Linked DNA regions of Homo sapiens. The protein of the gene in region 3 interacts with the protein of the main gene of each other region in a pairwise test. Each region holds a gene or a part of one and is shown on either strand. Other genes may lie near its edges. The genes, in order: GPR152, CYB561, TMPPE and STX8.

Region 1 (6,305 bases), on a different chromosome or scaffold from region 3:
GGCCAGCTTGTGGTTCACCAGGGCCTTAGGCTCCTGCTTGGGGCTGGTGGCTCCTGGGAGGCCCCCTTCTCTTCAGGGACTTTTTTGTTTCACGTCCTTGTGTCCAGGCCCGGAGGAGGAGAGGGAGGGAAGGACCAAAGGGAGGTCAGGTCAAGCCCGGGGAAAGTGCCCCCTGTTGTCTTCCTCCAGCAGGACTGAGGCCCAGGGAAGAATAGTCAGCGGGGTCTGGGGTGTTGAGGGACAGTACCCCGCAAGATGCCATTAGCTGCGGTTTGGGGGCTGTCGGGCGACTGTGTGTGTGTTGGGAGCAACCACAGAAAAGGCTGATGGCCGGGAGCAGGGGTCGCTGACATGGAACTGCCTGAGACTTCTGGCTGGATTGTTTCCCCTCCCTCAAGTCCTCCTTCCAGGCCTGACGGACTCAGCAGGGTTTTTAAGGACAAAGCTGTCGGCGGCTCCCCACCTGTCTGACTGGCTGGTTCCTCTGTCTGCCCTGGGCTCTTTCACTGCTCTGGTGGGCCTGCGTGTTCCTGGACCCTCACGTGGGGCCTGCGCCCGGGGCCGCCTCTGGCGGGGTGCTGCTGGGGCTTTCTCCTTCAGAGGCAGGAGGTGTGGCTGGGTCCTCAAGGGCCCCTGGGGTAGGATGCGAGGATGGGGTTGGGGAAGCTTCATCACAGGGACTGGGCACAGAACTGGCAGCAGGTGCAGGGGTCTGGACGTTAGTGTCTGCCTGTGGCTGGGCCACAGAATCTGACTGTGGCTGGGCCATGAGGTTCAGCTGTGGCTGGGCTGTGGGATCCGACTGTGGCTGGGCCGTAGGGTTCAGCTGTGGCTGAGCTGTGGGATCCGATCGTGGCTGGAGTGTGGGGTTCACCTGAGGCTGGGCCACAGGATCCATCTGTGACTGGGCCTCTGCCATCGGCTCTGGCAGAGTTGGACCCTCAGAATCTAGCTGGGTCTGTGGCTCAGTGGGCGTGAAGCTGCCCGGCCGCTCCTCGCAGAGAGCTGCCGCGAAGGACGAGAGCACGGAGCGCAGCAGGGTCCGGAGGTCGGCACTGGCCATGAGGCAGAGGAAGGGGCTGAGGCAGCTGTTGAGTAGGATCAGGTAGTCGGAGTAGACCAGGGCCTCCCAGAGCAGGTAGCCAGAGTAGACGTCCCACAGGAAGGCCAGGTAGAGCAGCTGGGCCAGCTGGTAGGGCAGCCTCAGGACCACATAGGCTGACAGAATGGTCCTGGCCACACGGGCGAAGCCCCGGCAGGCTGCGGGCTGCTGTTGGCGGTGGCAGGTGCGACAGGCTGTGGCCTGGGTGAGCACGTGGCAGACGAGCAGCAGGAGGAAAGGCAGGAAGCCCCCCAGGACCTCCAGCATCCTCAGCGACAGCTCCTCGCTGTCCCAGAAGTCCAGGCAGATGACCAGGTCGTACCACCAGACGGCAGCCTCGGGGAAGACCAGCCAGGGCACGCTGAAGAGTGTGGCCAGCACCCAGACACCGGCGCAGACCCAGAGGGGCAGGCGGACTGGGCGGTGCCCAGGGTACCAGTGTGGGCACAGCGCCAGCAGGCAGCGGTCGAGGCTGAGGGCGGCCAGCAGGAAGAGGCCGGAGGAGTAGGACACGCCCCATAGGAAGTAGTAGAAGCGGCAGGCAGCTGTCCCCAGCGGCCAGTGTCCCCCATGCCGGATCTCTAGGATCTGGAAGGCCGCTGCTGCCAGGAACAAGAAGTCAGAGAGGGCCAGGCTGAGCAGGAGCAGCGCCAGACGCGTGCCAGCTCCATGCCGGGCCTGGGAGCCGGCCAGCCACGCCATCAACCCATTGGCTGGCAGCCCAAGGAGCAGCAGGGCCACCAGGAAGACCGTGTCCCAGCCACCTTGGGGGTAGGAGTCCTCATCATCAAGCTCTGTGCGGGGCCTGTGGCCAGTGGCACCCAGGTCAGCTTCCATGGTAGTGTCCATTTGGGGTCCCCAGAGTCCTGCTGGACACGGAGTGGGTGCCTGGTGAATCAATGATGGTGTGAATGACCGAGTATGGGAGAGACGGTGCTGTGCATCTCCAGGCAAGTCACCATCCCTCCCTGCGCCATTGTCATCACCTTTTGAGTAATTATCCTATGCCAAGGACTTGAAGTGGATGACCTCATGGAGTCCTCATACAATCTACTTTACAGGCGAGGACAGGAAGGTTCAGAGAATCAGTGAAGGTAGGAAGGGAGGTGCCAGGGCTCAACCCAGACTTTTCTTTTCTTTTCTTTTTTTTTTTTTGAGAGACAGGGCCTTGCTCTATTGCCCAGGATGAGTGCAGTGGCACAGTCCCTGCAGCTTCCACCTCCTGGGTTCCAGCGACCCTCCCATCTCAGCCTCCCTAGTAGCTGGGACTACAGGTGTGCACCCACTACTTTTTAAATTTTTAGTAGAAACAAGGTCTCACTGTGTTGCCCAGGCTGGTCTTGAACTCGTGAGCTCAAGTGATCCTCCTACCTTGGCCTCCTGAAATGTTGAGATTACAGGCATGAGACACTGTCCAGACAGACTTAATCTTCTGCCATGTAGAATCCCAATGGGTCCGGATAGACTAACCCGGAGGCTTTCAAACATTGTTAAAGGTATGGAATTTTGTCTGTAAGTAAAGTATTCTAAGGCCGGGCACGGTGGCTCACACCTGTAATCCCAGCACTTTGGGAGGATCACCTGAGGTTGGGAGTTCGAGACCAGCCTGACCAACATGGAGAAACCCCATCTCTACTAAAAATACAAAATTGGCTGGCCGTGGTGGCGCATGCCTGTAATCCCAGCTACTCAGGAGAATCGCTTGAACCCGGGAGGCAGAGGTTGTGGTGAGCCAAGATCGTGCCATCGCACTCCAGCCTGAGTAACAAGAGCAAAACTCTGTCTCAAAAAAAAAAAAAAAAAAAGTATTCTAGTGGAACTCCTATATGGACTAAAAGGGGGTGCTCAAATTAAGGGAGGGAAGAGTACCCCTACCCCCCAGGGTTCCAGGGAACACAGTTTGAAGACCGTTTGGTCCGCTCATCACAAGGCCCCTTTATGCCTGCTCCTCTGGGGTTCGAGTGTTTAGGATTCCAAGAAGGGAGGGCTCTGGTTCCCATGGGCCCAGGGGACCCGAAGGTAGGGAGTCTGGGGCAGTGGGAACCCCCTCCCCTCCAGCGAGTGTCACTCATGGGCTCAGGATGAGGTCTCTGAGCCTCAGGACCCCACAGCCTGGGGTCAGGAGGGCCATCCTAGGAGCCCCTGGTGCCTCTCCAGCATCTTCCACCCCACCGCGGCCCTCTCCCGCTTCCCACAGCTCAGGCAGGAGGTGACCCCTGTTTGTCTCCTGGAGCTGCTAAAGAGAGGGGGAGGGGCTCTGCAGTGGGATGGTGGTGGGATGGTGAGGGTGAGGGGAGTTGGAGGGCACCCAGACCTGGGATCCAAGAGGCCTGCAGCCCCACCTCGCCCTTCCCCGCTGGCAGCGGGGAGGGAGTTTCCCTTTGAGGGCGATGAGAGCCCAGGTGGTGGTATAGTCTGGGGAGGGAACGGATGCCCTGAAGGGCTGGCCCCTGCCCACGGCCCACGGCTCCAGCCACTTGGCCTTTAGTTTGGTGCCCTCCGTACCCTCAGGGTTCCTCCTCAGGCTGACCCCCTCTGCTGTCTCCATTCCCTATTGGATCAGAGCCCCAGGCACCCCGAGACTGGGGCCCTGACCAGTGAGGCCTGGCTTACCTGGGAGGCAGAGGCCGATGGGTGGAAGGAGCAGGAGCAGGGCGTGCCTGCCTGCCCAGCACTCCAGCTGTCCCCCCGGCCCTCACTGGGGCCTGCTTTGTGGCACCCGGCAGCGCTAAGGCGGGTGGGCAGGAAACCCAAGCTGAGAGGACATCAATTATTTATGGGGCTGCTTGCTGGGAAACCCTAACCCTGGCCCAGTAGGGCCAAGTGACCAGCCAGACCCCCTCCCCCAGCCCTGATGGGCCTGGACAGTCAGACCCTCCTCCCCAGGGCCTCTCTAGCCCAGAGCAGACTCTAAGACCCCAAGGTCCACCTCCTCCCACATCACCCCCCGTGCTCCTCAAAACGGCATTCGAGGCATCTGTGATCTGGCCTCTTCCTCCATTTCACACACCCTCTGCTCTGGCCAGGATGTCACCCATGGGGGGGCCCCAGTAGGCCACTCGCTCATCCTTTCCCACCTCCCAGCCGTTGTCCGCATGCCTCCTGCCACCTGAGATGCCTTCCCTGGTCCTCTCTGCCTAACGAAGGCCTCTGCCCATGTCACACATGAGCTGAGTCTTCTGCGCTCTAGCATTATTCCCCATGTTTTATAGATAGGGAAACTGAGGCTGGGAGGGGAATTTGCTGGATCCCCCAGCTAATAAGTAGCAGATCTGGCATCTGAGGCTCATGGCAGCCACCACGTCCTGGTGCCCCTTGCTTCTGACCAAGGACAGTTCTCTGGACCCATCTGGCTCTGCCCTGGCCAGCCCTGGGGCAGAGGACTGGGATTAGGGCCAGGGCTGCCTGCCTCACTTACCCTAATCCCCCTCAGAGCCCGATCCTAGGCTCTCAGCTCTAAGAGTGGGGGTGCATAAGCAGCTTTATGGGTCCTGAAAGCCAAGGGTGCCCAGGGGTGTGGTGTCTCTGAGCCCTGTTATCCCTCCCCCATGACCACAGAGCAGGCAAGGGGGCAGCAGGGCCCAAATCTGGCCATTGGCCGTCAGAAGCCCCCTGCGGGGGTTGTGACTCCCAAGAGTGATGCAGAGGAGCCCCCGTTGACCAGGAAGAGGAGCAAGAAGGAGAGGGGGCTCCGAGGGTCTCGAAAGCGCACTGGCAGCTCTGGGGAGCAGACAGGCCCCGAGGCCCCGGGGAGCAGCAATAACCCTCCCAGCACTGGAGAGGGGCCGGCGGGCGCACCCCCTGCATCCCCTGGGCCGGCCTCTTCTCGCCAGTCCCACCGACATCGTCCTGACTCCCTGCACGACGCTGCTCAGAGGACATACGGGCCCCTGCTCAATCGAGTCTTCGGGAAGGTTAGGTGGGACCTGGATTGGGCTGGGGGTCCTGGGGGTGGGGCTGGAGACACACCCCTTGGGCTCAGCTCACCCTGCCCCTGAGAGGCCCTCTGCCTCTTCTGCCCCAGACTGAGCCTGGGCTGTGGGGCAGGGTTGCTGCGGTTTGGGGAAGGGTAGGTCTCGGGCCAGCGTGGGCGGTGGGCAGAGCCAGAATTCACACCAGGGCTCTGTGGGAGCTCCAGGCTCTAGGAGCACAAAAGGGAGCTTGCTCCTCCTGGGTCCCACGAGGCTTCAGGGTCCTTTTCCTACTCTGATGGGGCTGGGCCCTGCCCAGGCCAACATGAGCAGGGGATGAAGGAGGAAGGATGACAGAGCCGTGGCTGGCCCTGGGGACATCCTGGACTCTCCCCCTGCAGGACCGCGAACTGGGCCCCGAGGAGCTAGACGGTGAGTGGCTCTTGCTGCTGGCAGGGGGTGGGAGCTGTCCCTGAGCCTGGCCACCTGGGCTTGACCTCCCTCCTCCACAGAGCTTCAGGCCGCCTTCGAGGAGTTTGACACTGACCGTGACGGCTACATCAGCCACCGGGAGCTGGGTGACTGCATGCGGACCCTGGGCTACATGCCCACCGAGATGGAGCTCCTGGAGGTCTCGCAGCACATCAAGATGCGCAGTCAGTCAGGGAGCCCGCCCGCCCGGGCAGCCTGCGTAGTTCAGGGGGTCACGAGGGGCTGGCAGGAGGTGGCCCTTGGGAGTCCATCGGGGTGCTAGTGGGAGTGAGGGAGGGTGGCGGTTTCCAGGCAGGGGCACCGGGTTCAAGCTCCTGCCTCTCTGTGTGGGAAGGCAGGCCAGCAAGGCGGCCCGGAGACCCAGGAGAGCCCCTTGGGGCTCAGGTTGAGGACCCTGGCTCGGGATGTCTGTTGCCATGGCCACTATACACATTTGCTCCTTTCACCCGAGCCCTTCCTGCCTCGCTGGCCCAGAAGCCCCTGACTCAGTGATAAAGTGCTGTCCGCTGATACTAGTCACCTGGCACCTTCTCTCTTTCTCTCTCTTTCTGTGACCCTGCCTCAGCCCTGTGCCCTGGTGGCAGCTGCCTGAATTGGGGTCGCCCTGATGGGAGAGGACCCCACCTATGCCTTGCGACTCAGTGTCTGATGGCAGGAACTGTGTGGTTCCCCTTCGCTGGTTTGTCCTCAGACAAATCTCATATTCACTTCATTCCAGGACTCCTGCATTTTTTCCTTAAAATTCCCAAAATGGGGATGTGATTTACAATTGAGCTGGACATTTGGTGTCATGCTTTTCT
Region 2 (4,545 bases), on a different chromosome or scaffold from region 3:
GTCCCCAGGGAACCTGGCTTTCTCCTCCGGTTCCTGCAGCTAGGCTCCTGTTACAAGCCGTCAGCTCACATCACCTCTCCACCAAGGTGCCTCCTTGCTGCTGGGGCAGGAGGCCTCACGCACAGGCGGATGCACTCACGTTCCCTCTCTCACCTCCCACAGCCCTGCTGGTTTACCGTGTCTTCAGGAACGAAGCTAAACGCACCACCAAGGTCCTGCACGGGCTGCTGCACATCTTTGCGCTCGTCATCGCCCTGGTTGGTGAGTTCCCGGGCGCGGCCTTCCCCGCCACCTGCCTGCCTCTTCAGGTATGGCAAACAGCCGCTTCACCTGCTCTGTTCCCTCCCCAGAGCTGTGATGGGCCCGCCCCCACCCCAAACATCCCCTGCAGGGCCACTAGGTGCTGGCAGCCCTCGAGCTGGGACTAAAGCCCAGAAGTCCCGCTAGCTGGTTCCCCTGGGTCATCTTACACCTTCCTTTTCCACATCCAACCCTGTCCTCATATGACCTGTCTCTGGCCCAGGCTTGGTGGCGGTGTTCGACTACCACAGGAAGAAGGGCTACGCTGACCTGTACAGCCTACACAGCTGGTGCGGGATCCTTGTCTTTGTCCTGTACTTTGTGCAGGTGAGTCCTTCCAACACCCCGGGCCTGGGGCCACCTACCAGGGAGGTGGGAGGAGGAGGGGAGCTGGGCTGAAATGTACCTCATGGAAGGGCCTGATTTCTGGGGTGTGTGCAGGTGAGAGAGCTGCCTTCCCAGGCCTGTGCGGGTGCAAAGCTAGGATTGGCGGCCAAGGGTGCCCAGCTCCCAGGCGCCCCATGGCTGACTCAGCACTTTTGGCCACAAGCCCAGCTTTCTGAGTGTGCCAAGGCCTCAAGCGTTGGGGGACCGGTCCCTTGTCCCTAAGCGCTTAGTGCTCCTCCCACCACTGTGCTGAGGAGGAAGGAAACCAGGCAGGGCTGAGGGGCTCACAGTCGCCACGTGGGCACGTGGGTGTGGGCCTGGCCGACCTCGGCTGCTGGGGTGTCCGGCCGCCCTGTCCCGGAACCGTCTCCTTTCAAATCCTAGTGGCTGGTGGGCTTCAGCTTCTTCCTGTTCCCCGGAGCTTCATTCTCCCTGCGGAGCCGCTACCGCCCACAGCACATCTTCTTTGGTGCTACCATCTTCCTCCTTTCCGTGGGCACCGCCCTGCTGGGCCTGAAGGAGGCACTGCTGTTCAACCTCGGGTGAGTGTCCTGGGTGGGAGAGGGCAGGGCCTGGGCCACCCTTGCACAGACCTCACCCTGCCTTCAGCTTCCCCAGCTGTGGCTTCCTGAGCCGCCTCTCGTGGCGTCACAACTGGTGGCTGTAGTTATGCTTGCTAAGATTTGGGTGCTTGGGGCTTGGCTTTGGTTAGCTTTCTTGATTTTACCCTTTCAAAGAAACTTCTGGGCTATGGGCACCCTATTTATTCCCACCACGCAGCAGGATCTGCAGGACAACTGCTTAGAGCTAGAATATTGATCTAGGTTTTTACATTGCCCATCTCTTTTTGTCTGTGAGCCATAGCTGGAGATTGCTGGTTGGGGGCGGGGGGATGGTTGTTCTCTTCAGGCAGGGCAGGGAGGCAGGGGCTGGTGCTGGAATCCCCATGGCATCTTTAAGGCCCAGGATACAAAGGGCATTTGGCCTAATTGTGACCCCTTGGGCAGCTTCTCCCTTCCTCTCACCCCTGCAGGGGCAAGTATAGCGCATTTGAGCCCGAGGGTGTCCTGGCCAACGTGCTGGGCCTGCTGCTGGCCTGCTTCGGTGGGGCGGTGCTCTACATCTTGACCCGGGCCGACTGGAAGCGGCCTTCCCAGGCGGAAGAGCAGGCCCTCTCCATGGACTTCAAGACGCTGACGGAGGGAGATAGCCCCGGCTCCCAGTGATGCGCCCGGCCGGCCCTGGGGGTTCGCGGGGTGTCTTCTTGCCTGCCCCTGCTGAGGCGTCTTCAGGACTGCAGGCTCCGGAGAGTGGCTCTGGCAGCAGGCGGGCGCGTGGGTGCAGCTGCATCTGTTTGAGTGCTGCTTTCTGGGGTCAGGTCTCCGCCTCCTCTGCTTCTCCTTTCTCCGCTGCTATAGACCAGTTCATTGTGTGTGGCTCCCGTGTCTCTGTTGCCCCCTTCAGTGCAGAAGGCTTTGGGTAGGACTTCGGGTGTTCGGTCCTGGTCGCAGAGCACAGATCTTTAAAGAAGCGAGAGAGGAGGCCCCACCCTCCTGGCAGCAGATGCCTGGGGCAAGGCCAGGGGAAACTGGGGGGGCCTCAGGGACAGGCCTGGAAAGGCCACGATGGCTGCTGAATTCAAACAAGGAGTCCCTCCAGCCTGAATAACACGTGGCACAAATGGGCCCGGCCTTTGGCAGAGGAGCAAGTGATATGATGTGTAAAGTATGTTGGTGGTGAAAGCAAGGTTCCCCAGGAGAGGGGAGGGACTGGCCCCTGGGAAGCTCTGAGATGAGGCTGTGGCCCAGCTGTAGTCCTGACCTTCCTCTTCTTTAACCCTTTAGCCCTAGGATGGCTTTGGTGGGAGAGGGGATAGAAGCCCATGACTTCAGACAGACTTTCTCTTGGCAGATGCAGGCGGGCCTCCTCCCAGGCTGCTCCAGACATGGGGGTTGGGGATGGGGGGCACCTTGCAGCCCCTTCCTGCTGGGGCTCCCTCCTTGTAGCACCCCCCTTGCGGCTCAGCTCTGGTTTCCTCTCCCAGGCTCACCCAGGCTCTGCTCAGGCTGGGAGGCAGAGGGCACAAACCTTATAATTTTTTAAATGAAAAACCGCTGCTGCTGGCTGTGGCTAGAGCCCCCTGGGGCTGCTGGAGCTGCTGCCTCTGTTCTGGAGGACGAGCCTTCTCCTTATCTGCTGCCCATCTTTCCAGGAAGTCAGGATGGAGTCAGAACAACTACAGTCATCCCCCGTGGTGTCTGCACATCACTCCAGCCCCATAAAGAGTGTCATGTTAGCTGAGTCACCATTTGGCTTCGGCCTGGAAATAGTGTGATTAGAACACTGATCGTGTGCGAGGCCAGGAGATCAAGACCATCCTGACTAACAAACACAGTGAAACCCCGTCTCTACTAAAAATACAAAAAAATTAGCCAGGCGTGGTGGTGGGCGCCTGTAGTCCCAGCTACTTGGGAGGCTGAGGCAGGAGAATGGTGTGAACCCGGGAGATGGCGCTTGCAGTGAGCTGAGATTGCACTCCAGCCTGGGCGACAGGCTCAAAAAAGAAAAAAAAAAGAACACCGATCATGTGCTTCTTGGATCTGGTGACTGTTCTCTCCCTGTTTTCCTTTCTTTTTGGGTGTTTGAGGAGCATGGCTTAGCTTGAGACACACACAGACACTGTGTACTTCAGTGAAGGGCTTAATATACAGTTTCCAAACCTGACGACTCTTCTTCTTGTAATGGCTGCCCTTTTCCTACCTGAGGCCGTCTTAGAGAAAGGGGCCAGTCTCCTCTAATGCTCAGATTTCCCATAGTTGGCTTTTGCTGTGTCTCCTGCCTCAGGCAGTGTCATTTCTGGGAGCAGGTGGTTGTAGTCCAGGCCCCTCCCCAGCAGGGTCTGCCCAGGCTCCTTCGAGCCCCTTTCCCCGCCTCCTCTCAGCCTGTCCGGATGACAGTGTTCGCCTCCTGTTTAGACTGTACACTCTTCAGGGGTAGGGGTGCCGTCAGTTCTTCAATCAGCTGGCACACACTTGTATAGTGAAATGTTTACATGTGGGAAAACTCCGCCTTAGACAAACTACCAAAGTACAATCGTGTCTCTCTCTAGCCGGAATGCTACAGAGAGAAATGGAACCTTAGATTTGCAACAAAAGTCTGTAAACTGGTCTGTTTGCCAAAGTGAACACTGGATGACTAAGGAGCTGAAGAAGGCCCCCAGAAGCGGATTTGTGGTGGGTTATTTTATTTTGCCTGTGGCCAATCTTCTGTGAAATACAATGTGCTGTTGGTGCAACAGATGATTCAATAAATGTCTACAGCAGACCTCTCGCCTGTTATCTTCCTTTACTGTGGTAATAAAAGGAGCCGGAGCTTTTAGCAGCCAGACACATGACGTTAGCTCTAGGCCTGAGAGAAATTGAATATCCGCAGGCTGGGCACAGAAGGTAAAGCGATTAGTGATATTGATCATGGCCTAGGGGCTGAAAAGGCCCAGCGGTTGTCCAGTCTCGACCCAGCAGAGGCAGTGTTGTTTCCACATGGTTAGATAAGCCCTTTCCTCTCAGCCTGAGAGGGTGGCCTGGATGGTGGAGCTGCAAGAGCCTGATAAGAGCCTTGGCAAGGAAGGTCCCCCAGTGTTTAATGGACCCCTTTCCCTTTGAAATCAGTCTTTTTGATCCTTAAGAAGAGGAGCAAAGCTTTTGGAACGAGCTGAGATTCCACTTTAGATCCACGTACGTGGCTCAGGCAGAAGGTGAGTTTTTGGCAAATTTGGGTGGGATCGTACTGTGCGCTTTGTGCCTTGTCACTTAAAGCAGTGGCCGCCAACCTTTTTGGCAGCAGGAACAGGTTTTGTGG
Region 3 (4,267 bases):
CCTGGCTGCTGTCACTGTCTTCGTGTCCATGATCGCCTCCCGCTCGTATCTGGCAGAGAGCCTTGAGCTCAGGGCCTGGCGTTGGCTGCTTCGCTTGCAGCTTGCCCTGTTTGTCAACTCGCTCTTGCTCATTGGCTCCCTCTACATTTGGCGCAGCACAGTGAGCAACCTCTGCCACTCCCCAGCTGCAGAGTCAACCTGTTTTCAGCTTTGGAAGGTGGTGGTTCTGGCATTTCTGGCCCTGGCCCATTCCAGTTTCTTTACCATGTTCTTTTTAGTGGCCGAAGAGCCCTATCTCTTTTCCTTGGCGGCCTACTCCTGCCTGGGTGCTTACATCATCATGCTCTTCTTCCTCTTCATCCTCAGCGGCATGGAGCAGGCCTACCAGCTCTTGGCCTGGCGCAGTGGTAGGGTCGTGGGCAGCCTTGAGAAGACAAGGAAGCTCGTGCTCAGGCCTGCCCTGGCAGTGGGAGTGACTGCTGTGCTCAGCGTGGCCGGGATTCTGAATGCCGCGCAGCCCCCGGCTGTGAAAACTGTGGAGGTGCCCATCCATCAGCTGCCTGCCTCAATGAACAACCTCAAGATCGTGCTCCTCTCAGACATTCACTTGGGCCCCACAGTGGGCAGGACCAAGATGGAAATGTTTGTGAGGATGGTGAATGTGCTGGAACCAGACATCACGGTGATTGTGGGTGACCTCTCCGACTCAGAAGCCTCGGTCCTGCGGACGGCTGTCGCTCCTCTGGGCCAGCTTCATTCACATCTCGGTGCCTACTTCGTCACAGGCAATCATGAGTACTACACGTCAGATGTCAGCAACTGGTTTGCACTTCTGGAATCCCTGCATGTCCAGCCTCTTCATAATGAGAACGTGAAGATTTCCGCCACACGGGCCCAACGTGGTGGTGGTGGCAGTGGCAGTGGGAGTGAGGATGAGGACTGGATCTGCTTGGCTGGGGTGGACGATATTGAAGCAGACATCCTGCACTACTCTGGCCATGGCATGGATCTTGACAAGGCCCTGGAGGGCTGCAGCCCAGACCACACAATCATCTTGCTAGCTCACCAGCCCCTGGCTGCCAAGAGAGCTCTCCAGGCTCGGCCAGATATTAACCTGATCCTTTCTGGGCACACACATGCTGGGCAGATCTTCCCCTTGAACGTAGCAGCCTATCTCCTGAATCCCTTCTTTGCTGGTCTCTACCAGGTGGCCCAGGCTACATTCGTGTATGTCAGCCCAGGCACAGCCTACTACGGGATACCCATGAGGCTGGGTAGCAGGGCCGAGATCACAGAGCTCATCCTGCAGCGGTCTCCCTGAACTGGCCCTGCCCTGTGCACCTCTGCCCTGCCCTTGTCCTCGACCCTCCATCCTGCTTCAGAGTGGTTTGCCTGCTTTTCCCCTCCAGCCTTGCCCACTCATCCTTGCCTACACACCCTTGGTCACAAGCCTGACTCAAACAGTGACTTATGGTGGGCCTGCCTGGCATGTTCAGGCTGGTTTAACTATTTCCTTGGCCAGTTGCTTTTTTTGATGCACTTGTGAGATCACTAAGGTCACATATATTAGCACTCCCCTCTATTTTCCAGATGATGTGGAATGGGGACCTTCTCCTGCAGAGCTCCCAGGGATGAACCTCCCCTCGGGGTTGCTAGAAAGGCATACCTCTAGAAGGTGGGGCGGGGAGGAGCAGGAGCATTTTTCTCCTGGTGTTTTAAAATTGTCTTTAGGACTTAAGTGGTTTCCAGAATCATTGATCCAGAGCCTTTCTGGGGAAGGGGTAGTGTTGCCAGGTAATTTGGGAGAACAGGCAAGATGGAAGGGCCCTCTGGCTGCTAGAGAAGAATATTTTCTTTTCCTCTGATTCTATCAGGATCACCTCTATTGAGGGCATCAGCAAAATCTACTGGAATGCAAAGCTCCTCCTGTTCCAGGCCTTGAGGGATGCTATTTAACTGTCTGTGCTCCTGGGCCTTTGGGGGCAAGGTCAGGGGAGAAGAACGGTGGGCGCCATGGTCGGTGATGGTGAGAACATGGCTGCTTAGGAATTCAGAGGGCTTTGCCTCCCTTGTCTCATTTTATACAACCCTTCGGGGAGCTCACTGGGGACAGGCTGCTTTTCCCTATTTGGAGATAAGGAAACCAAGGCAAAGAGAGATAGGGCACAGGCAGTATGACAAGATATGTAGGAGATTTGGGGCTAGAAACCAGGTCTTGTACCTCCCAGTAAAAGCGGTGCTTTTGCCCTTTTGCCAGAAGCAATAGATCCTTTGATCCTGAGATGGAGATAAGCACCCGTGTTAGAAAAGGCCTCACTGAGAAGACAGGGCTGGGCTGGTTTCCTGCTGGGTGATTTAGGCTTGTGATGGAAAGTCTTCCTCCAATGGGGAGTGAAGACACTCGCTCTGACTGGAGAGGCTAACCCTGCTGCTCACTCATAGGGCAGCGTTGGGTGGGTGACTTTCCCTCACTCAGCCTTGGTTTCCATCAACCCTAAAATGGGGATAATTATCGTATCTACCTCAAGATTGTTTTGTCAGGAGGGATCCATCAAGCCTTGTGCATGAGTTCCACATGGCACAGCGTGCACAGTAAACACTCAATGTTAATTTTTCAACGTTCCAGTGGAGCTTGCTAAGGAACTCTGTTGGGCACAGGTGCCCAGAGGATTCATGGAGCAGCCAGTCCTGGGGAATGTGAGTGGGTAGCGAGCTGCCTGCTGCTGGGGCAGGTGATGTGTCAAAGCAGCAACTGCTAGGGGTTTGCCTTCCTTCCCTCATGTGCATTCTGGCAGGCAAAGGGGGTTTCTTCCTTTCCTCCTTGTCCTCCTGGTGTATAGTGGGGTTCTGGGGGATCTGGAGACCACCCTTTTTGTTCCCAGGCAGCCACGGTATTGACAGTGGGCCATACCATGCAGTTTAAAATGTATCTTTGAGTTGAAATTTTGGTGGTTTCCTTATTCTTTTTTCTCTCTTCACTGTCCTTCCAAACTCACTTTTCTTGTGTCCCGACCGCATTTTGTGAATCATCCTTACTCCCTTTAAGTTCTCGCTTTGGATTTCACCAGGTGGGCTAGATGGTGCCATTTCACTTCCACTGTTTGATGCGGCTGGTAATGTTTGACTCACCTGTTACGTGTTATTTCACTGGTTTCTTGATTTTACATCTTTCTCATCAGTGACCTGGGCTTGATGAAATTAGCTTTCATTAAGTCCTATTTTTTTTTTAATTTTGCATCCTTACCTCTTTTCTTTCTCTTGAATGCCATCATTGTGTGGTCTTATGTACCCTTCATCCACTCTGAAGTCCTTGCTTGACTGATTGCTTTCTATTAGCAGAAAGAAAACAGGTCCATCCTATGTATCTGAGAAACAACATCAACACCCTCTCGTATGTGGTTTGTATTCCCTGACGCGGCGGACATTTTTGCAGCAGAAATTTCTCCATCACTGTCCAGATTCTGGCCCTGGTGGGCAGGTCTCCATGACACCTTTAGTCCCTTTGTTCAACATTCTTAAACCATGGACCTTTTTGTTTGTTTGTGGCCGGGGGAGGTGGTGAGAAACGTTACTTGAAGCTTGATCATTCTTTCAATTTCATTTGTTTCTTTATTTTTAATCTGTTAGATGCAAATTGAAATGCAATGCTTTTTGAAAATCAGCAATAGTGTCTGTAGTATATGATGCTGTCACAAAATCTCAATAAATTGATCCTGCTGCCATTCCTTCCAAATACCCATCCATGCTTTTCTTCCCCTCGTGTTTTGTTTGGTTTGTTTTAAACTTTTCGTACATGTACCTCTCTCCCAGCTTTAACAAGCATGACGAGACCACTCTGCCATCCTTTCTCAGCTACCCCTGCCCCACCTGTACTCTTTATTTTTTGGCTGGAGTATATTAAGGTAAATCATAGAAAACATAATGTTACCCCAAAATTACTTCAGTATGAATCCTTTTTCAAAAAGCATAGCTATAGTGTCATTATCATATCCAATGAAATTAACAGTGATTCTTGAATATCATCTAATAGCTAGTTAGGAGATTTGGGGCTAGTAGCCAGATTTTTGACCTCTTTAAAGAAGTGTTCTTTCCACTCTCTGAGTATTAAGTAGCTGTATCTGTCACAAATGAGTACAGAATTCAAATGCAGTTAACTGTGTGAAGAGTTAGTGTTTAGTTTTTCCTGATTATCTCAACTATATTTTTTATTGTGGCAAAAAAATTACTATCTTAACCATTTTTTTTGTTCTTTTTGTTGTTGTTGATC
Region 4 (7,042 bases), on a different chromosome or scaffold from region 3:
TATGTCTTTTAATGAGATATTTAATTCACTTACATTCAAGGTTATTATTAATAGGTGAGGACTTATCTTGTCATTTTATTGTTTTCTGGCTGTTTTCTATATCCTTTGTTCCTTACTTCCTCTTACTGTTTATTTTTGTGGTTGGGTAGTGTTCTGAAGTGATAAGGCTTGATTTCTTTCTCTTTTTCCTTTGTATATTGGCTCTACCAGTGAGTTTTATAGTGTCACATGTTTTTATAATGGCTGTTATGATCTTTTCACTTCCAGATGTAATACTCCCTTGAGCACTTCTTGTAAGACTGGTCTAGTGGTGATGGATTACCTTCGTTTTTGCTTGTCTGTGAAAGATTTTATTTCTCTTTCATTTCTGGAGGATATCTTTGCTGCATGTAATATTCTTGGTTGGCAGATTTTTTTTTTCTTTTAGTACTTTGAACATAAAATCCTATTCTCTCTTGGTTGGTAAGATTTCTGCTGAGAAATCTGCTATTAGTCTAATGGGAACTCCCTCATAGGTGATTTGATGCTTTTCTCTTGCTGGTTTCTTTTTGTCATTGTTGTTTGTTTGTTTTTGAGATGGAGTCTTGCTCTGTTGCCCAGGCTGGAGTGCAGTAGCGTGGTCTCAGCTCACTGCAACCTCCGCCTCCCAGGTTCAAGTGATTCTCCTGCCTCTGCCTCCTGAGTAGCTGGGATTACAGGCACCTGCCACCATGCCCAGCTAATTTTTTTGTATTTTTAGTAGAGACAGAGTTTCACCATGTTGGCCAGGCTGGTCTTGAACTCCTGACATCGTGATCTGCCAGCCTCGGCCTCCCAAAGTACTGGGATAACAGGCATGAGCCACCACATCCAGTCCTTCTCTTGCTGTTTTTAGAATTCTTTGTCTTTGACTTTTGATAATTTGACTCTAATGTGCCTAAGAGGGGTCCTGTTTGAATGGAATCTATTTGGGATTCTTTTAGCTTCCTGGATCTGGAAGCTCCCAAGACTTGGGAAGTTTTCAGCTACTATTTCATTCAATGTTTTCTGTACATTTGCCCTTCTTTTCTCTTTCTGGAACACCTACAGTGTGAATATTTGTTCACTTAATAGTGTCCCATGAATTCTGTAGGCTTTCTTCATTCCATTTTACTTTTTCTTCCCCCCATCTTTCTGTGTTATTTCACAAGATCTGTCTTCAAGTTCAAAAATTCAGCCACGCATGGTGGCTCACACCTGTAATCCTGGCACTTTGGGAGGCCAAGGCGGGCAGATCACTTGAGATTAGGAGTTCGATACCAACCTGGCTAACATGGTGAAACCCCATCTCTACCAAAAAATACAAAAATTAGCTGGATGTGATGGCATGCCCCTGTAGTCCCAGCTACTCAGGAGGACTGAGGAGGGAGAATCACTTGAGCCCAGGAGGTGGAGGTTGCAGTGAGCTGAGATAATGCCACTGCACTCCAGCCTGGGTGACAGAGTAAGAACCTGTCTCCAAAAAAATAAATAAATAAAATTCTGCTTGGTCTAGTCTTTTGGTAAAGCTCTAGCTTGTACTTATTTACTTATTCATTGAATTCTTCCACTCCAGGATACCTGTTTTGTTCTTTTTTATGGTATTTATCTTCTTGTTGAATTTCTTGTTCAAGTCATGAATTGTTTTCCTGATTTCATCAAATTGTCTAGCTCTATTATCTTGTATCTCACTGTAAGATTACTATTTTGAATTCTTTTTCTGTCATTTTGTATATTTCTCTATCATTGGGGTCTATTACACAGGAATTATTGTATTCCTTTGGAGGTGTCATGTTTCCTTGCTTTTTCATGTTCGATGTATCCCTATGTTGATGTCTATGCATCTGGTGGAATAATTGCCTCTTCCAATTTTATGTGGTAGGTTTTGCAGGGAAAGAAATATTTGTATGAATGGATCTTGGGGTGTTGGTTCAGTGGGATGCATTGGCTTTGGTTCCAGGTGGGCATAGTAGTGTAGTTTTTGTGTAGTTTCTTTAACTGTAATCCATGCCAGTGACATTTGTGAGTGTCTCAGTGGCCTCAGCTGAGAGGCTTTGTGGTGGTGGTGGCATGACTTTGCCAGGGATGTGTTCACCGGGCTATTTGTCAGGTCAGCGATGCATGCGTTCACATGGTGGGTTGTCCAACTTGGGGTCTCACTTGCTGGGGTTGGGGTTGGTGCCCTTACTCTGGCTGAGGGCACAGTTGCTTGGTTGCTTGGCCAGTCTGGGAGTATGCCTGCCAGAGGTGGCCTGTTGGGCTGTTTCTCAGGTTTGGGACATGGGCACACTGCTGCTCAGCTCTCCTGTGGGGAATGCCTGCTGGGGACAGCCTACAGGGCTATTTCTCAGGCATGAGAGGTGGGCATAAGTCTGCTTGATGGCCCCGGGGGCATGTCTGCCAGGAGTGGCCTGAGGAGTTGCTTCTCAGACCCGGGATATGAACACAAGGCTGCTCGGCTGGCCTAGGGGAGTTGCCGCTAGGGGTGACCCATGGGCTGTTTTTCAGGCCTGAGATATGGACACATGGCTACTTGGCTGGCCTGGGGGTATGTCTGCCAGGGGCAGCCTGCAGGGTTGTTTCTCAGGCCCTGATTGAGGTGTGGGGCCTTTGGGCAGGCCGGGGGCATGTCTGTAGGGGGCTGCACTGCCCGACTGTTTCATAGATCCGGGATGCAGGAGCGTAGTCACTCTGCTAGCCTGTCAGTTGCTCAGGGCCTTCTGCTTGCAGGAGGGTATGCAGCAGTTTGGTTGGCTCAAGAGTGGGTTTGCCCTGGGTGGGACTGTTTCTGTGGCTGAAAGTGCAGAGGGTGGTTTCCCTTCATTGCAGGACCAGAGTCACAGCCATTCCCGAGCCCTGGGTTGTGGAGTTCAGCCACCTGTGTAGCTTTGGTGGCATGAAAATGGAGTCCCAGTGCTGGAAAGGTGCAGTGGCTACTGGCCCCAAGAGGAAGGCACACTCCAGAGGGAGCTGTGGTCTAAAGATGGCGCCATGCTGTAGTAACTTGGCTCATGGAGTGGGTGGGGAGTGGGGAATGCTCCTAATCTGGGGCAGTGCAACTGTACGAATTCCCAGCAGCTCTCCAAACTGGGCTCAGAACTTGCAAGGACTGGGGGATCCTCCTGTAATAAGGACTGTAGGTGTTTGCAGTGGCAGTGGGGGCAGGTGGGAATCTCCCGCTTACCTTTTCCTCACAGGGAGAAGGCCTTCATATGTCCAGGCCTCCTCAGTCCTGGTGGAAGAGATGGGGCCACAGAGGCTGGGGGCCTTCATGCTGCCCTCCTAGACTTTCAGTCACCACAGGGGCCTCTCCACTTCCCCACTGCAGTTCAGCACTTTCCCACACTGAAGTCAAATCTTAGCTGTTTATTCATTGCCTTAGTCCTTTCCTAAGAAAGGTGGGTGGGGGGGGGGGGGAGCGGGTGAGCACCAGCTGACTCTAATCAGTCATCTTGCTGATGTCCCACCCATCATTTATTCTATGATTTTTCATGAATCTGTTGAGAGCTCTAAAGATGAGTCTAATGTTCATCTCTTTGTTGAATTGGTCAGAAGGTCGTGTCCTGGACAAGATGATCTTCTCAGCTTGGACAGAATGCAGACAGGTGGGGAGAGGAGAGGAGCTACTTGAGAGGAGAAAAATCCTGAAAACATGGGGACTGAGGTGGAAATCATGTGTTTCCTGTTCCTTAGACAGCGAGACCAACTGGTCTCGTGCAGAAAGGGCACATGGATTATTAGAGGGAGTAAGGTTAAGATTGACAAATCAGAATGTGTTTATTCTGTTATGAATGCTACATTATAGTCACAAAATTGGTATTGAAACCCTGCATGTGTTTCTGTCTCTGAGCAACCAAATACTCCTTTTTTTTTTTTTTTTTTTGAGACAGAGTCTTGCTCCGCTACCCAGGCTGCAGTGCAGTGGCGCCATCTTGGCTCACTGCAACCTCCGCCTCTCAGGTTCAAGCGATTTTCCTGCCTCAGCCTCCCAAGTAGCTGGGATTACAGATGTCTGCCGCCAAGCCCGGCTAATTTTTTTTGTGTTTATTAGAGACAGGGTTTCATCATGTTGGACGGGCTGGTCTGGAACTCCTGACTTCAGGTGATCTGCCCGCCTCAGCCTCCCAGAGGGCTGGGATTACACACATGAGCCACTGCGCCCGGCTCCAAATACCCTTTAATGGGAAATTATATGGTCTTTTTTTAAAACAACAACAACATTGTAATCTGTAGTCGCAACATTGTGTCTGCTTGAGAAATAATATTTGTACCTTTGGGGTCACGTAGCCTCTGAGACAAACTTTGTCCTAATAAAAAGGCCGCTGTTCGGCCTTCTGTTTTTGAAATTTAAGAACCTCATTTATTACCAACTTCTTTTAGGATTATTAACTCAAACATCTCTTGGAGGATTAGTACAAATATTATGTTCTCCCATCATCTCTATAACAGGCTGTAATTCTGAGGACCAAGCTTGTGCCTTATTCATCCTTGTATCTCGTCCAGCACTGAATACAGTTCCTGGCATAAACTAATGATGCAATAAATTGTGTTTGAATTGAATTTTCAAAGCATTCAAGGCTGGCCACCTCTGCACTTGTGGGAGTAATTTGCATTTGAGCTGCATGTTTTGAGATATATCATGCATTTAATATTGTTCTTTAGGTCCAGCCTGATGAGTGAAGAGGCTAAGCGAGGAGCACCCAACCCTTGGCTCTTTGAGGAGCCAGAGGAGACCAGAGGCTTGGGTTTTGATGAAATCCGGCAACAGCAGCAGAAAATTATCCAAGGTACTAAATATCCTGAGGAGTGTGGGCTCAGAAACCTTGCCAGAATTTTTTTTTTTTTTTTTTTGAGACGGAGTCTTGCTATGTCGCCTAGGCTGGAGTGCAGTGGCGTGATCTTGGCTCACTGCAACCTCCACCTCCCGGGTTCAAACGATTCTCCTGCCTCAGCCTCCCGAGAAGCTGGGACTACAGGTGCGTGCCACCATGCCCGGCTAATTTTTTGTATTTTTAGTACAGACAGGGTTTCACCCTGTTAGCCAGGATGGTCTTGATCTCCTGACCTCATGATCTTCCCACCTTGGCCTCCCAAAGTGCTGGGATTACAGGTGTGAGCCACCGTGCCCGGCCACCAGATTTTCTACTGGAGCCTTGTTTGTTCCTCATCCCCATTGAAAATTGGAGTGAAAACTGCTGGTCTTTTAAAGCTTTTGGTGTGTGCCTCAGGATACCTGAGGAATAGACAGTTGCTGTCACTCATCTCGGTGGCTCATGGAAGTGGTGATTTTCCATTGGGCAAGAGCAGAGAGAGCAGATCTGAATCTAAGTCCAAGCAAATTTGATGCTTATGCTCTTTACTTTAGCTTCACGACTGGGAATTAGTCTCCAAACACAAGACTCCATTTTATTTTTTAAATTATAAAATATGTCAGTTTGGCTTTTCTTTTTTATCTTTTGCCCTGTGGCTTTTTAACTTTTTTTTTTTAAACTTTCTTATATTTTTAAAATTTCAGAAGTATGCATGATTGTTATACAAAGTGTAAACAACATAGGAATGTATAAGATGAAAGCCCTCCATATTGTTTCTCCAATCTCAAACTGGAAACAGATTAATATGTATTTCCTTAGACCTTTTGTATACATTCACATACATATATTCAATATAAATATACTTATTTTACATAAATGGAATCATGAGATATTTAGCTCTCTCCATATATATATATAATTCCACACCTTTTTAAAACTTAGTATGTGTCGGCTGGGTGTGGTGGCTCACGCCTGTAATCCCAGCACTTTGGGAGGCTGAGGCAGGAGGATCACCTGAGATCAGGAGTTCGAGACCAGCCTGGCCAACATGGTGAAACGCCGTCTCTACTAAAAATAAAAAATTAGCTGGGTGTGGTGGCACGCACCTGTAGTCCTAGCTACTCAGGAGGCTGAGGCAGGAGAATCGCTTGAACCCAGGAGGCAGAGGTTGCAGTGAGCCGATATAGCATGTCACTGCACTCCAGCCTGTGCAACAGAGTGAGACTCCATCTCAAAGGAAAAAAAAGAAAAAACCACTTAGTATGTGTTATGGACTTTTTAAAATGTCAGTATGTACAGATACATTATTCTTTCTAATTCTGCTTTTTAAAATCAGCTTTATTGCCAGGCCTGGTGGCACATGCCTGTACTCCTGACACTTTGGGAGGCCAAGGCAGCAGGATGGCTTGAGTGTAGGAGTTTGACACCAGCCTAGGCAACATAGTAAAATCCCATCTTTAAAAAAATTAATGAATAAAAAGGAAGAGGGAGGAGGAGGAGGAGAAAATAAATCTAAAGTCAGCTTTATTGAGATGTAGTTGATATGATCATAAATGGCCCATGTTTGAAGTATATGATTTGATAAGCTTTGACATATGTATATGCCTGTGAAACCATCACTGCAATAAAAATAATGAACCTAATTGTTATTCCCAAAAGTTTTCTTCATGCCTCTTTGTAATTCTTCCTATTGTTCCTCCCTGCCATGCCCAGACAACTGCTGAACTTCTTTCTGTCACTATAAATTAGTTTCCATTTTCTATAATTTTATATAAATAGAACTATACAGTATGTACCTTTTGGGGAAGAAGGGGCTCTGGCTTCTTTGTCTAAGCATAATTATTTTAAGATTCATTGAACTGGTTATGTGTATCAGTATTTCACTCTTTTTTTTTTTTTTTTTTTTTTGAGACAGAGTCTGGCTTTGCTGCCTAGACTGGAGTGCAGTGGTACGATCTCAGCTCACCACAACCTCCACCTCCTGGGTTCAAGCAATTCTCCTGCCTCAGCTTCCCGAGTGGCTGGGATTACGGGCGCCCGCCATCATGCCCAGCTAATTTTTTTTGTATTTTTAGTAGAGATGGGGTTTCACCATGCTGGCCAGGCTGGTCTCGAACTCCTGACCTCAAGCGATCCACTCGACTCGGCCTCCCAAAGTGCTGGGATTACAGGCATGAGCCACCGCGCCCGGCCTGCATTTCACTCTTATATTATAGATTTGTATTCCATTGTAT

What was found.
Region 1: the proteins of TMPPE (region 3) and GPR152 interact in binary tests that used the Homo sapiens proteins (3 or more experiments, as listed by UniProt).
Region 2: the proteins of TMPPE (region 3) and CYB561 interact in binary tests that used the Homo sapiens proteins (3 or more experiments, as listed by UniProt).
Region 4: the proteins of TMPPE (region 3) and STX8 interact in binary tests that used the Homo sapiens proteins (3 or more experiments, as listed by UniProt).

Annotation. Positions count from the first base shown.
Region 1 is NC_000011.10:67,450,774-67,457,078, forward strand, and holds GPR152 (probable G-protein coupled receptor 152), read right to left. Parts: upstream 1,957-6,305; 5' UTR 1,952-1,956; coding exon 539-1,951; 3' UTR 528-538; downstream 1-527. Other genes in the region: CABP4 (calcium-binding protein 4), read left to right, coding at 4,651-5,016, 5,415-5,445, 5,526-5,669. UniProt on the Homo sapiens protein: Orphan receptor.
Region 2 is NC_000017.11:63,431,770-63,436,314, reverse strand, and holds the end of CYB561 (transmembrane ascorbate-dependent reductase CYB561), read left to right. Parts: intron 1-162; coding exon 163-261; intron 262-523; coding exon 524-627; intron 628-1,071; coding exon 1,072-1,229; intron 1,230-1,720; coding exon 1,721-1,913; 3' UTR 1,914-4,011; downstream 4,012-4,545. UniProt on the Homo sapiens protein: Transmembrane reductase that uses ascorbate as an electron donor in the cytoplasm and transfers electrons across membranes to reduce monodehydro-L-ascorbate radical in the lumen of secretory vesicles.
Region 3 is NC_000003.12:33,089,888-33,094,154, reverse strand, and holds the end of TMPPE (transmembrane protein with metallophosphoesterase domain), read left to right. Parts: coding exon 1-1,321; 3' UTR 1,322-3,733; downstream 3,734-4,267.
Region 4 is NC_000017.11:9,502,780-9,509,821, reverse strand, and holds part of STX8 (syntaxin-8), read left to right. Parts: intron 1-4,659; coding exon 4,660-4,784; intron 4,785-7,042. UniProt on the Homo sapiens protein: Vesicle trafficking protein that functions in the early secretory pathway, possibly by mediating retrograde transport from cis-Golgi membranes to the ER.